Linked DNA regions of Homo sapiens: region 2 is linked to region 1. Evidence: fine-mapped expression QTL. Tissue or cell type: whole blood. Region 1 holds a variant in brackets; the other region holds the start of a gene. All regions are shown on one strand. Distances are from middle to middle.

Evidence for each region. PIP is the estimated chance that this variant, and not a neighbour inherited with it, causes the effect.
Region 2: ADI1 starts here. The variant in region 1 is fine-mapped to the expression of ADI1 in whole blood (TOPMed, PIP 0.97). The same link has a PIP of 0.9 or more in blood mononuclear cells.

What each region holds. Positions count from the first base shown.
Region 1 is chr2:3,490,874-3,497,836 of GRCh38, forward strand. It overlaps ADI1 (acireductone dioxygenase 1), which reads right to left. Exons shown (of 4, transcript NM_018269.4): 4 at 6,493-6,963. Among named protein-coding and RNA genes, the nearest start is that of TRAPPC12-AS1, 11 kb to the left of the region's middle. The variant C/A (reference allele first, on the strand shown) is at 3,067.
Region 2 is chr2:3,516,566-3,523,528 of GRCh38, forward strand. It overlaps ADI1 (acireductone dioxygenase 1), which reads right to left and starts at 2,966. Exons shown (of 4, transcript NM_018269.4): 1 at 2,803-2,966. The coding sequence starts at 2,922. LOC124907725 (a long non-coding RNA gene) reads left to right here and starts at 2,981. Exons shown (of 2, transcript XR_007086195.1): 1 at 2,981-3,391; 2 at 6,341-6,963. RefSeq lists silencers at 1,873-2,072, 2,553-2,612, 2,693-3,012, 3,083-3,212 and enhancers at 2,632-3,153, 3,154-3,674.

The sequences.
Region 1 (6,963 bases):
GCTGGGGCTGCATCATCTGAAGGCTCAACGGGGGCTGGAGGACCTGCTTCCACACACCCCGAGCCAGCAGCACTGCTGGCAGAGGCCTCAGACCTCCCCAGAGAGCTGCACAAGTGTCCTGCGGACGTGGCAGCCAGCTTCCCCAGAGCGCAATGTCTGAGAGCAAGCAGGAAACTACATGCCAACAGAGGCCACCCACAGCCACCTCAGCCGCTTCCTACTCATTAGAAACAAGTGACCAACAGAGACCATGCTGAAGGGGAGGATAAATTGAGGGAGATCGTCAGAAACTTGTGGTTGTATTTTTTAAAACAACACACTTAATTTTTTAAAAAATTGTTGTCATTTCACTGGATTTGGGGCACTGGGGAGACTGACCCACATCTTCTCCTCCACCACCCAGATTCCTATCATGTGCTGATCTGAACGTTTAATTTTCAGAAAGGAGAAAGTCTCCTCCAAGTTCTTCAGGAAATTCATCCCAATATTCATCAGATGCTTTTAAGGAACACCAGAAAAAACTCCAGGTCTGCCCTGGGGATAGCTCTGAACCCCCTGTGTGGTTTAACACACACAGAACTTCCCGTTGCACTGCTGACAGGTACCACGTGGGAAAGAGCTCACTGGGGTCAGCAAAGCTGGGGAAGCAAAGCTAAGCACAGCCCCGAGGCCTCCAGCTGCTCCCTGCACGACGGCTCTCCCCAAGAGGGACTCAGACTCCCAACCCATAATAGAACCCTTTCAATGCATGGCTTCACAGACTAGCTTTCCTCAGAGCATGCATTGTAAAGACACCAGCCTGGAGCGTCAGTTGGGAGTTTATCATCCAAAGACCATTAGAGGAGCAAAAATCCCCACCTGTCACCCAGCTCCAAGAGTCAGAGACCCCCAAGTTGCAAGGAACAGCAAAGGAGCCCCACGCCACAGGCCACTCGGCCACCTCCCTTCCGTCTCCAAGGGGGTCTGAAGACCTCAGGATGGTGCAAGCCCCAGGGAGGCCCCGGAGAGCCTTTGTTTCCCCTTTCGGTGACTGAGCCAGCCCTGCTGTCAGCATCCCTGACGGGTCAGGCCATCCTAGGGCCCTCGCTGGCCAGGTGGCCCTGCACACACATGCTCCCAGGTGGCACCCGGGGCCAGAGATCCCCTAATGAATTTCTTGCTGCACATAGGCTGAGTCCAGGGACTGTACATGCTCTCCTGCATCTTTGCTGGGAGCTCCATCTCTGCTGGGAGCACCATGCTATATCTGCTGTGTGTCTGTGACCCTCATCTGTGACACCCTGGTTCCAGACTTTATTTTCGGTCTCAACACACATGTAATAAGAGATGTGTGCAAAGGGACTTTCAGGATAAACTGGCTCCACCACCCTATCCCTTCGCCAGCGCCTGGCCCAGTGTCCAGCACACAGGAGGCAAGCATTTCTCAGATGTGGGATGCATGGCGCATCCCAGCGTCTTCTTTGTCAGAGAATGAGGGAGAAAAGAAACCACCAGAGTCTCCTGAAGGTGTTGCTGGAAAGAGCCCAGCTCACTGGCCGTGCACCTGCAGGCCGCTGGCCTCAGCACAGCCCCATCCCTAGAGTTCTCCCACGCCGCTGACAACAGGCGCTCCATCCATGGCCCGTGAAGTGCCCACGGGCTGCAGGTCTTCCCTTGAGATTCAGAAAGTACCTGCCGCTCAGCCCCTGTACACACCTGTCATGCCTCTCGGGCTCAAGTGATCCTCCCACCTCAGCACCTCAGTATCTGGGACCACAGGTGCCTACCACCCTGCTCGGCTAATTTTTGTATTTTTAGTAGAGATGGCGTTTCACCATGTTAGCCAGGCTGGTCTCAAACTCCTCAAGTGATCCTCCTGCCTCGGCCTCCTGAAGTGCTGGGATTACAGGCGTAAGCCACCGCGCCCGTCCTTTTTGTAATTAGGTTTTCACTGCATAAATCATAAAACGATTACAGGTCTCCAGAAACTGCTGCCTGATACACTTTCCAAAGTAAACAGCTTTTGGAAAAATGGCTGTTTTTAGATCACATCTAAATGTCGCATTCTTGGTCTGTGTGACTAGAACCAGACTCCAGCCATCCACCCGCCCACCTGGGGTATCACACACCAGGCTCTGGGAACGCGCAAGAAGCCGGCATGCTGGGAAGTTACTCATAGCTCCTGGGGTCACCCTCCCGCCCCATGCCCATCCGGATGAGATGTTTTCGTGAGTTGCGTAACTCACAGCCACCCGGTAACACGATCGACCAACAGAGGCCTCACTCTCGGGAAACCGAGGAGCCCGGCCGAGGCAGGGGAGCCCATCTTAGTTGTCAGAGCTGCGTCATGAGAACAAAATGTCTGAAGCTGCCAACTTCACCACAGAACTAGGGAAAACACCTCCATCAATAGAACCAGACGATCTCCTTGTGGACACGCAGGAAAACGTCTGCAGTGGTTACCTCACACGCCCCTCCTTGGGGGACAGGCAGGGAAAGAAAGGTCATGGAGCCCACAGTGGCTCATTTACATCCCTCAGTTCGTAACCACCAGCCTCTACAGGCTCTCTGAAGAGCTCGCAGAAGCACACGTGCACACACAGGCACGCAGGTCCACACGCATGCACACAAGTCCAACCACATGCATGACGATGTAAGCGCAGAAATGAGACCCCCTCCATCTCGGATTGGGTTTAATCTCCTGCAAATCAGCAAATCAGCAGCCACTCTGTGCAGTCAGGTGCCCACTGCAGCCCGGTTTGCCTTTCTAAATTTCATCTTAATTTAAGGAGGTAAAGAATGAAGTCCACACTCCACAGGATAACTACTTCTAAGGAGCTGGAAAGCTGTCTGGCTTATTGACACAAATTTAAGAAGGAATATTTCCTCCAAAGTCTTGGGTGAACCACAGCAGCTTGGGCAGTGTGGACGTCTGGCGTCCTGAGCTTGTGCTGGGCTGGAAGGAGAGCGGGGGAGTTTGTAAGGCAGGTTGCAGTGGTGTGGGCGGGAGACAGGGGTGGCGTTCACAGTGAGAGACGGCCAGGGGAGGCCCCTAGGAAGAATCCGCCCATCACAGTGGACGGAAGC[C/A]ACGATTGGACGTGAGGCTTAATGTGAGCTCTGTGTACAAACAAAGCAACCAGCTCATTCTGTAGACCAGTATTAAACATGCTTATATTTTAAAATACAATTTTGATGCAAGAATTGAATTTAGTAGCTATATTTTCTAATCAAACATTAGAATATGTGGTCTGTACATATACGGCCAGAGGACAGAATGTCAGAAATGGGGACTGCAGGAAATAAACTGAGCTACGCAGTCACTGTGAGCCTAGCTCCTCCCTGCTTCCACCTAGTTCCAGTCCGATGAGGAGTGAGTCTCTCTTCGTCCTTCCCTTCTGTAAGAGGTCAATTTAGGCTTTTTTAAAATGGAGAGTTCAGGGTCATGAGCTGATAGCGGAGGCCTCTTTATCGTCATTTTTAATCAGCTCACACACAGAGACCATCACTGGGGCCCTGGCTAAGGAGGGGCATCTGCTGACAGTCGCTGCTCAGAGGCCAGCGGAGCGTCTCACCGGGCTCTCCATTCTTCCTTCTACACTTGAATGATAAGGATCGCAAATTTAAAGTAAAATCTTGAGCCCCCCAACTGACTGAATGGAACCCGTTGGCCAACCTTAAAAAACGAGTTCCCAGCCGGGGCGCAGTGGCTCAAGCCTGTAATCCCAGCACTTTGGGAGGCCAAGGCGGGCAGATAATGAGGTCAGGAGATCGAGACCAACCTGTCCAACACAGTGAAACCCCGTCTCTAATAAAAATACAAAAAATTAGCCGGGCGTGGTGGCAGACGCCTGTAATCCCAGCTACTCGGGAGGCTGAGGCAGGAGAATGGCGTGAACCTGGGAGGTGGAGCTTGCAGTGAGCCAAGATCGCGCCACTACACTCCAGCCTGGGTGACAGAGCGAGACTCCGTCTCAAAAAAAAAAAAAAAAAAAAAAATGAGTTCCCAGGCACGATGGACGGGAGGTCAGACACACCCCACTATACCCCCTCCCTTTTGGGATTTAGACACAACTGGCCAGCATTCATGTTAAAATAGAGATGGTGAGACCAGAGAACAGACTGTGGCAATAAGACACAAATCACACACAGGACCTAAGGCCTGGCCAGGCTACAGCGAAGTCTCGCACCCTGAACCTAAATAAGAAACTCTGTCCTCACCACCACCAAGGTTTTCTTCTCCAGCAGCTAAACCAGCGTTGGCCTTGAGATGAGCAAGATGAAAACAAGTCGTAGTTTATCCACCACCCGATGCTGGCTAACTGGCCCTGTTCCACCAGCCGTAACTACAGCTTTGATGGAACAAGAGACCGATTTCAGTAACTTCCTCTGGACAAGAATAAGCCCATGGATGGGCTCTGGCCGGCTGATAGAGGCTGAGCACTGGGAGCCTTCATGTCCCTGTTTCACCTTTAGAAGTGCAGAGCCTGCCTGGGATGCACGTAGATGTTAAGTCTCCTCTCCAAGGTGAACATGGGTTGTATGTAAGTGGATGTTTGTTCAATACACATGCGTCAGGACCACTTCATGAATATTCACAGCTCCTCCTGTAACCTGTTGAATATGTATGATCCTCCAGCCCATTCAGCATAAAGCTCCTGCCCCTTCTCCTCCAAGATGCCTGTCTGCGGTCTCTGCGGGAGGCTGTGCTTCCCAGCCTGCGGGATGCCACCTTGCAGAGTGTAACTCTTTACAAGAAATAATGTCTTTAGGTGGGCATGGTGGCTCACACCTGTAATCCCAACACTTTGGGAGGCCCAGGCGGATGGATCACCCAAGGTCAGGAGTTCGAGACCAGCCTGGCAACATGGTGAAACCCCATCTCCACTGAAAATACAAAAAAAATTAGCCGGGTGTGGTGGTGCACGCCTGTAATCCCAGCTACTCGGGAGGCTGAGGCAGGAGAATCGCTTGAACCCAGGAGGCAGAGGTTGCAGTGAGCCAAGATCACACCCCTCCACTCCAGCCTGGGCGACGAGAATGAAACTCCATCTCAAAAAAAAAGAAAAGAAAAAGAAAGAATGTCTCCTCTTCTAAATGTATAGATTGTGTCATCTTTTAGTTAACAAGATGAAGAGATGGATGGCAAGAAGAGAAATAAAAATCAGAAAGGAGATGATCCTATTCACTTTTCGGAAGTGAGGACAAAACCAAATAGGGAAATGAGCCGCCGCAGGAATGAAGAAGCCTGTAACAGCTATTCCAAACCGGGAGAGCGTCCTGGGGCCAGGACTTCATTGGGATAAGATGTTGAATCTGGAACAAGATAGAACAAGGCTGGACATTTCCTGGATTATCCACGCCTACTCCTTAGAAACAAGCGTGAAGTCCCCACAATGCGAGCAGGCCTCTCACCAGGTTGCCTGTGCTGTCTGCAGTGCGGTATCTACCTCGAGTAGGAAGACGGCAGGAAAAATCAAAGTGTCTTGAAAATGCCAACACATTAACCAGCTTGAAGCCATACTCAAGTGCGATAATTCATATTCTGATTTATTAATATCCCAGTCATAAACCCCATGGCAATAAATACATCTGTGCCTGTAAAAAGAGGGCACACTTGAAAAATAACACATGTCCAGGAATATCTTACTCAGCAAGCAGGCAGAGCCTGCTCTAAATTGACGAACTTGGACACAGTGAAAACCAACAGCTGTCCCGCTTGGGAAACTAACAGTTGGGCTCCTTGGAAAAAATACCTGATTTAGAATCTAACGAATGTGTTTATAAAGGACCCATCTTCTTTTTTTTGTTTTTTGAGACAGAGTCTCGCTCTGCTGCCCAGGCTGGACTGCAATGGCAAGATCTCAGCTCACTGCAACCTCCGCCTCCTGGGTTCAAGCAATTCTCCCACCTCAGCCTCCTGAGTAGCTGGGATTACAGGCACCCGCCATCATGGCCAGGCTGGTCTTGAACCTCTGACCTCAGGTGATCCGCCCACCTCGGCCTCCCAAAGTGCTGGGATTATAGGCGTGAGCCACCGCGCCCAGCCAAGGATCCGTCTTCTCTAACATTCGGCTTGAAGAGAGACCCCCCCACTACTTTACAGTGATGCCTTCGGGAAGAACAGCCTTTTACCTCCCTAGGTTTTCTCCCCGCCTAGAGTTCTGTTTCTTACTACATTACATTTCCGCTCGCTTAGTGTTTTTCAACCCTCGAGCTCTCCTCAAACCGTTCCATTGTTTAAGATACTAACAAGGGGCTGCCCTGACCCAGGAGACAGTGTAAGTGTAGGGATCAGGGAACAGAAGCAGGAACGCAAGACGCCGGATACAAACGTGAACATGCTGCAGGATTCCACGTGCATCAAATTCTAGAAAAGCCAAAACCCACCCACATAGGTTGCTTAGGATGGGGTGGGGGGACTAAGAAGGGGCATGAGAACCTTCTTTGGGTGATGAAAATGTCCTATGTTGTTCTGCCTGAGGTCATGCTGCATTTGTCAAAATTCAAAAACACTGAAAATGAGTACATTTTATTGTATATAAATGACACCTCAATAAAAACGAAAGATGTGAGCAACATCCTGGGAAAAGAAAATGTGATTTCACCTTAAGTGCTTTAGCAGAATTCTATTATATGCCTCAGCTCTTACTCTTTCTTCTTTTTTGAGACAGAGTCTCGCTCTGTCACCCAGGCTGGAGTGCAGTGGCCACAATCACAGCTCACTGCAGCCTCGACCTCCCAGGCTCTAAGAATCCTCCCACCTTAGCCTCCTGAGTAGCTGAGATTACAGGCATGAGCCACTGTGCCCAGGAACTTACTCTTGCCTGTAAAAATACAGCTCTGAAGTGAAGAAATCCCAGGCGCCACATCAAGGAGGCGAAACTAGAGTCCGCAGGAGGCCAGCCCCGCACGAGGAGTTTCAAACACTAAGGATCCTGACAGGGAAAAGTTATATGAAGCAAGAAAGGCAATTTAAAGCGATAG
Region 2 (6,963 bases), 26 kb after region 1:
GTCTATGAGGACAGGATCCTCATCAGACACTAAATCTGCTGGCACCTTAATCTTGGACTTCTTAGCCTCTAGAACTATAAGAATTCTATAAATTGCTGTTGTTTATAAATTGCCCAGTTTAAGCTATTTTTGTCATTTTGTTATAGCAGCAGGTATTTAGTTTATTCCAAGCTAAAATAATCTTCCAATTGTTTGTATGTATGACAAAAGGTTTTTTAGAACTCTATGTCACTAATAACAGATTGATTAAACAGATACACAAACATGTCCACATGTGTTACCTCTGTTAAAAATTATGGGAGATGTTACATATATATAATGTTAATATGGGGTGTGTGTGTGGCTTTTTTGTTTTTTGGGTTTTTTTAGAGATGAGGTCTCAAACTTCTGGCTTCAGGCAATCTGCCGCCTCAGCCTCCCAAAGTGCTGGGATGACAGAAGCCACCATGCCTGGCCCAGGAGAGGTCACTGTTTTGGACTGAGCCCCTGCACTAGGCCCCAGGATGAGACCAAACCAAAATGCAGCCACTCATGCCATATGCCACTTGATCAAACTAAAACTTTAAAGAAGGAGGTGCATCTCAAACAGACCAGCTTTTCCTGCGATCAGAAGATTCCAGTCTTCCTGAGTCAGAATAATAAGGAAGTCGCTTCTGCTTTAACCCTTAGGAAAAAAGTAACCTAATGTAACTTGACGTTAACCAATCAGCTTTTCTACCTATTGTTCTGTTTCTTTGTTGCCGCCCTACAAAACCCACTGTTGTGCTATTACCCTATCGAGCTCTTATTCTATTTTGTAGAACGGAGGTTGCCCTATTCACAAATCAAGAATAAAAGCTAATTAGATCTTTAACTAAATTTGTTGTAATTTTGTCTTCCAACAGCACTGATCCAGAATGGATATTAAGAAAGCATATAGGCCGGGTGCGGTGGTTCGTGTCTATAATGCCAGCACTTTGGGAGGCCGAAGTGGGTGGATCACCTGAGGTCAGCAGTTCAAGATCAGCCTGACCAACATGGAGAAACCCTGTCTCTACTAAAAATACAAAATTAGCCCGGCATGGTGCTGTGCACCTTGTAATCCCAGCTACTCGGGAGGCTGACACATGAGAATGGCTTGAACTCGGGAAGATGAGGTTGCGGTGAGCCGAGATCATGCCACTGCACTCCAGCCTGGGCAAAAAGAGCAAAAAAAAAAAAGAAAGGAAGAATATAAAAACACACAGGACATTAAAACCACAGAGTAAACATGATTTAATTTTGATAGCCCTGACTCAGAGCAGAACTAGACGGTAGGAAAAACTATGTTTGAGCCCATGTAATAATCTAAAAGATGTCTATTAAAATAAATCTTATTTTATTCTTTGAATACATTAAGAAGCTGACCTGTAATCTCACTCTTGTTCTTGTTCTTAAAACCGTCAAATGCACAATGAAACTCCCCAAGTGTATTAATTTGAACCCTCTGGTTGTTTGGATTGTGGATAAACATAATAAGTCAAAATTTATTCTCCTCTCATTAATGGAAAACTATAAACCACTTGATTGCTTTGAAGAAGTACCCTCCAGCAAGGTAAGTGTTAAACCTTATCCTAGGAAAAGACAAATACTATGTAAACATTAACATGCATGCCCTGTTTCGCACTGGTATGCCAATTGTCACTTCCCTCTTCTGTTATTTAGGATAGAACAAGATGATATCCAAATAGATTATGCTGGAATATTCTATAATCCTTTCCCAAGGGAAAAAGTGTGGTGTCCAGGTAACCCTGTGTATTTCATTTAAATCACATGAATGAAGATTAGATCCAGTCACCCCTCAGCCTATCCCTGAGGCCTACCCTGGCCCTCTCTTTTGCAGTAAACCTTTGTTACTGCAAAACCATTTGCAAATAAACAAGGTGAGCGGATCTGGACTGGTGCTGTGCAAGCAACGGGACACCGGTGCAAAGCCTAGCCCCGCCTTGCAAAGCTAGCGTTACAGAGGCAGGGCTGACACCGGGCCCAGCCGGGACCCAAGCCAGCTCCACCGCCCACTGGAGACGCCCCCACCCCACCACCGAGCGCTACCCCCCGGGGATCCCCGACAGACCGCGGCAGGACCCCGCCTCGATCTGCTGGCGCCCGGTCCCTCCCCCAGGACACTTTCAAGCGGAGTCCCCCTTCCTCCGATAGAAGAAACCCCTGGGCCTTTGACCGAGGTTAGCCAGGCAGGCAGGGCGTCGGACAAGCCCAACGAGCCCACGAACTCGCAGCCCGCCTCCGGCGAATCTTGCAGCCCTGCCGGCCGACCCTTCAGGTCGCTGCCAATCCCGGAGCTGCGCGTGCGCAGCGAGTCCCGGCTGCGAGGCCCCTGACTCGCCAACTCTGCTGCTGAGCATGCGCAGCACACCCCAGGCAACAGAAACGGACCGCCGACCCCCACCAGCCCCGCTGCTGAGCATGCGCAGCCCACCCCAGGCGCCGGAAGCCGACCGCCAACCCCGTAAACTTCGCTGCTGAGCATGCGCAGCACACCACAGGCGCTGGGGGCTGACCGCCGACCCCTCAACGCCGCTGCTGAGCATGCGCAGCACACCCAGGCGCCGCGCAGGAGGCCCTGACCACCCAGCCCCACTGCTGAGCATGCGCAGCCCACCCCAGGCACCGGGAGCCGCCACGAACCCCCAAATCCCGCTGCTGAGCATGCGCAGCATGCCGCGGCTCCCAGGCCGCTGCCCGGCACCTGGAGGAGGCTGGGCTGTGCGCGGCGTTTGGGGGTCGGCGTCGCCCGCACGCTCTGCGAGGCTTGGGCTCGCGTACCTTCCAGTAGAGCACCCCGAGCCGCCGCAGCTGCTCCAGGCCCACTGGGCGGCCGGGGTCGGGGCGGTGGGGTTGCCGCGGGTCGCCCGGGGCGTCGTCCATATACCAGGCCTGCACCATGACGCGCAGTGCGGGTGCCGTGTTCGAACCCAGGGGCCGCGCTCGGAGCCCGTCGGCCGCGCTTTATCTTATAGGGAGGCGTGGACGCGCATGGGAGCCGGGATTGGGCGGCTGGTTGGAGGCAGGGCCGGCGCGGGGGAGGCCCCACGGCTCCGCTGTTTTCGGAAGCAAAGGCATTCAAGCCCCGACCCTGTCCTGGGCACCCTCGGACCTGCCTGAGGCCCGCGGCCCGGGGCCAGCCGTTCGCCAGACGCGCCGGGCAGGTGAAGCTCACCGTAGGCATCGCACGTGCCTTGTGTGTGCTGCCGCGGTCTCCCTGCACCTTCAGAGCAATCTTGTGAGGCAAACGACGTTAAACGTGTTTAGAGTATGGAAAGCAAATGCAAAAAAAAAAAAAAAAGAATAAGGATTTTGTTAAGCTCATGCAGTCCATATGGGCACAGTTGAGACTTCACAGCTCGGATCCCAGGTGAGACATTGTCCTCCACCTCCCCGCTCGCCAGACTTTTGCAGTGTCGGCATTCTGCAGTGCTACCCTGTACTTTTTAAACTTCCTCTTGTTTCCTCTTTTCATCGTTTCTCCCTTCCCCATACACTGTAATGTGCTAGTCTTAGAATAAAAACAAGCTTCCCCTATCCCATTCTGAATTTTTCAATGTAGCTAATAAAGTCCAGCCGCTTGACCATCCTAGATGTCTTTTCAAACCAACGAGTTGAAAAAGATCAGATTATCTCAGCCATTCCCTCAGTCTCTTTAACAAATAACGATAAAGCAGACAGGATTTAAATGAGACTGCTGTAAGAGCACAACCCCAATGCATGCAATTGACTCTTGAACTTCCAGAAATATTGCAAGAAAAATACACACTTATTTCATTTCTGTTCCCTTGCTCTAATGGCTTTGCAAATACATCCTCCTTAGAGAGCCTACCTCTCCACCTCTTCACTTGACCAGTTACTACTCATCCTTCAAGAACACACCTTAGACGCCATTGCCCATTTTTCTGCAGCACTCATGACAAACCTTCATGCAAGAATCTAATGGCAATCTCGCACCTCGCATTTTCTCCTTAAGCCACTGCAATAAGGCTTCGCTTCTCACCACTGGGGAACTGCTAATGACTGCCATATTGCCAGATCCAATCATGGCACTTCTGTTCTTACCAGCAACATTCGTCACAGTTGCCCACGCCCTTCTTGAAACATTTTCTCATTTTCCTTCATGAGGGCATCTTGGCTGCTCCTTCCCAGGCCCCTCCTAGCTCCTGCTCCTCTAACCACTGGTTAGTGGAGCGTTCCAGACTCTCCTCGTCCTGTTCCTATCCACTCACTCCAGGCGACTTTCCATGCTGTGCTGCCGGCTCCTGCAGCCACATCTCCAACCTGGACCTCATTCCAGAACCTCAGGCTTGAGTATCCAGTTGGTGTTGTCACATACATGGCTAATCAGTGTGTCAAACCTAACATGGCCAAAACAACTGATTCCCCACACACACCCCCAAACATGCTTCTCCCTAACCTTTCCCGTCTCAGTGAACGGCAGCACTGACTGCCCAGTGGCTTAATAAAAAAATCTAGGTGTACTCTCAGTTTTGCTTTTCCTCACCCTCAAGATCCAATCCAATCTATCAGCAAGTCATGTTGCTTTGACCTTCGAAACACACCGCAAATCCATTCACTTCTCTCCAGCCCAACTCTTTCTGCAGTCTTTTCTTGCCTGATGGAATTGACTACTGAAATTCCCCCTCCTCACACCGCTTCCATTTTTGCCCCAGTGCAATCCATTCTATGCACAGCACCCAGAGTGACCTTTTAAAAATAGGAGCCAGATGCCAGGCACTGTGGCTCACGCCTGTAATTCCAGCACTTCGGGAGCCCAAAGAGGGTAGATCACTTGACCAGCCGAGGCAACATGGTGAAACCCCGTCTCTACTAAAAGTACAAAAATTAGCTGGCCGTGGTGGTTTGCACCGCTAGTCCCAGCTACTCTGCAGGCTGAGACAGGAGGATTGCTTGAGCCTGGGAGTCTGAAGTTGCAGTGAGTTGAGATTGTACCACTGCACTGTAGCCTGGGTGACAGAGCAAGACTCTGTCTCAAAAAACAAACAAACAAAAAAACATGGAATCCAGTCAAGCCCCTTTTCTGCTTCAACCCTCCTTTCTATAGCCTCGGCCTGACCACCTCACAGCCCATCGCCCTCCTTTCTTGTTCTCTGTCCTCCAGATACTTTGGCCTTTCAGTGTATTTGAGTCATATGCTCCTCCTTCCTTTGGGCCCTTCACCCATGCAGTTTTTCCACTGAAAATGCTCTTCCTTCCTCCAAGTACTTTTCTCCTATACAAAATTCTAATTTCAGCTTAACTATCCCTTTCGTAGAGAAGCCTTCTCTGACCACTCCCTAGACAACTAGATGGGCTCTCCGTGTGAAACACTGCCATGGTGCTAGCTTAGAGTTTGTAAGGACATGTTGACTTGATGTCTTTTCACCAAAGGACTGACCACTCCATGTGTTGTTTGGTACTTGCTGAATGAATGGATTTGTCTGTATTGCTGAGTGCCGCATATACCTTGAGGTCAGAGAATGTGTCTTATTAGTCCTTCAGTGCTTGGTACATAGTAGACAATTTTTTTAAAAGTTTGTTGAATGAAGGGATAGGATGAGGAACACTCCAAATAGTCTTTACTGTCTTACTGTAACTGCACTCCTATCTCATATCTAATGCTTCTCATTTACTAGAAAATAGTAGTACTAGGCTGGGTGCTGTGGCTCATGCCTGTAATCCCAACACTTTGGGAGGCCAAGGTGGGAGGATCACTTGAGGCCAGGAGTTCCAGATCAGCCTGGGCAATACAGCAAGACCCCATCTCTACAAAAAATATTTTTATTAAAAAGAAAATAGTAATTGTGACAATAATAATAGTAGTGTGTGCTGGGTAACATTTTAAAGATTTGATGCATATTATTATTTTTACTCCTCATGATTACACTGTGAAGTTGGTATGACTTATTATCCACATTTTAAAGATGAGACATGGGAGGCTGAGGCAGGAGGACTGCTTGAGCCCAGGAGTTTGAGACCAGTCTGGGCAACACAGCAAGACCCCATATCACTTAAAAACAAATGAGACAACTAGGACACAAACAGGTGAAGTAACTTATGGTCACACAACCAGAAGTGACAAAGCTGGTATTTGAGCTTGGGGAGCCCAGCCCAACAGCCTGTACACATAACTGCTAAAATCGAGTACAAGAAGTAATGATGTGGGTTTCATCCCATCGTAGAATAAACTTCATCTTGAAATTGGAAGAGTGCTTCCGGTTCCCCTCCCACCCCCAGGCTGCGGCAGCCCCACACCATTATGTATCTACCATTTGTCAGCCTCTGTCTTCAGTAGCTGTTCCTTTTTTCCTATTAGGTATGGGGGAAACAGTTTTATGCCATAAAAAACATACTTTAGAAAAGCAAGATGATGGAGAGGCTCTGAGGAATTGCCAAGGCAGCCCAGCACTTGCTGCTGGCAGGAGTTCAAGCGGGCAGAATCAGATGAGAACAGCACTCATTACTTCATACGGACATTGCCGGCCCATGGGATTCCTCCTTTGAAGAGGAATCTTTGGAACTTGAACTGTCTCTTCCAGAAGAATAGCCAGCAGCAGCCCAAAAATATGTTTCATGACCAGAATTTATCACCCCGATGTAAGACACTTGGGAAGAATCTGTTTAGATGTTTTGAAAGACAGATGGTCGCCATCGCCGCAGACCTGCGCAGACTGTTATCCGTCTGGGCTTTGTGATATGCTCCCAACCCAGGGGCGCGTTAACAAACCATATAGGGATACAGTAGAGCCACAGAAGAACAGGAAGATCCAAACTGCTGGAATGTGGAACGCAGATAAGGCTCTATAGACGGGCAGCAAGTTTTCTCTGGAAAAGGCCAGATAGTAAATCGTTTAGGTTTTGTAGATCGAGTCAAAATTGAGGATAGTATGTAGGTATTTATACAACAACCACATTACAGCATAAAAACCATTCTTAGTT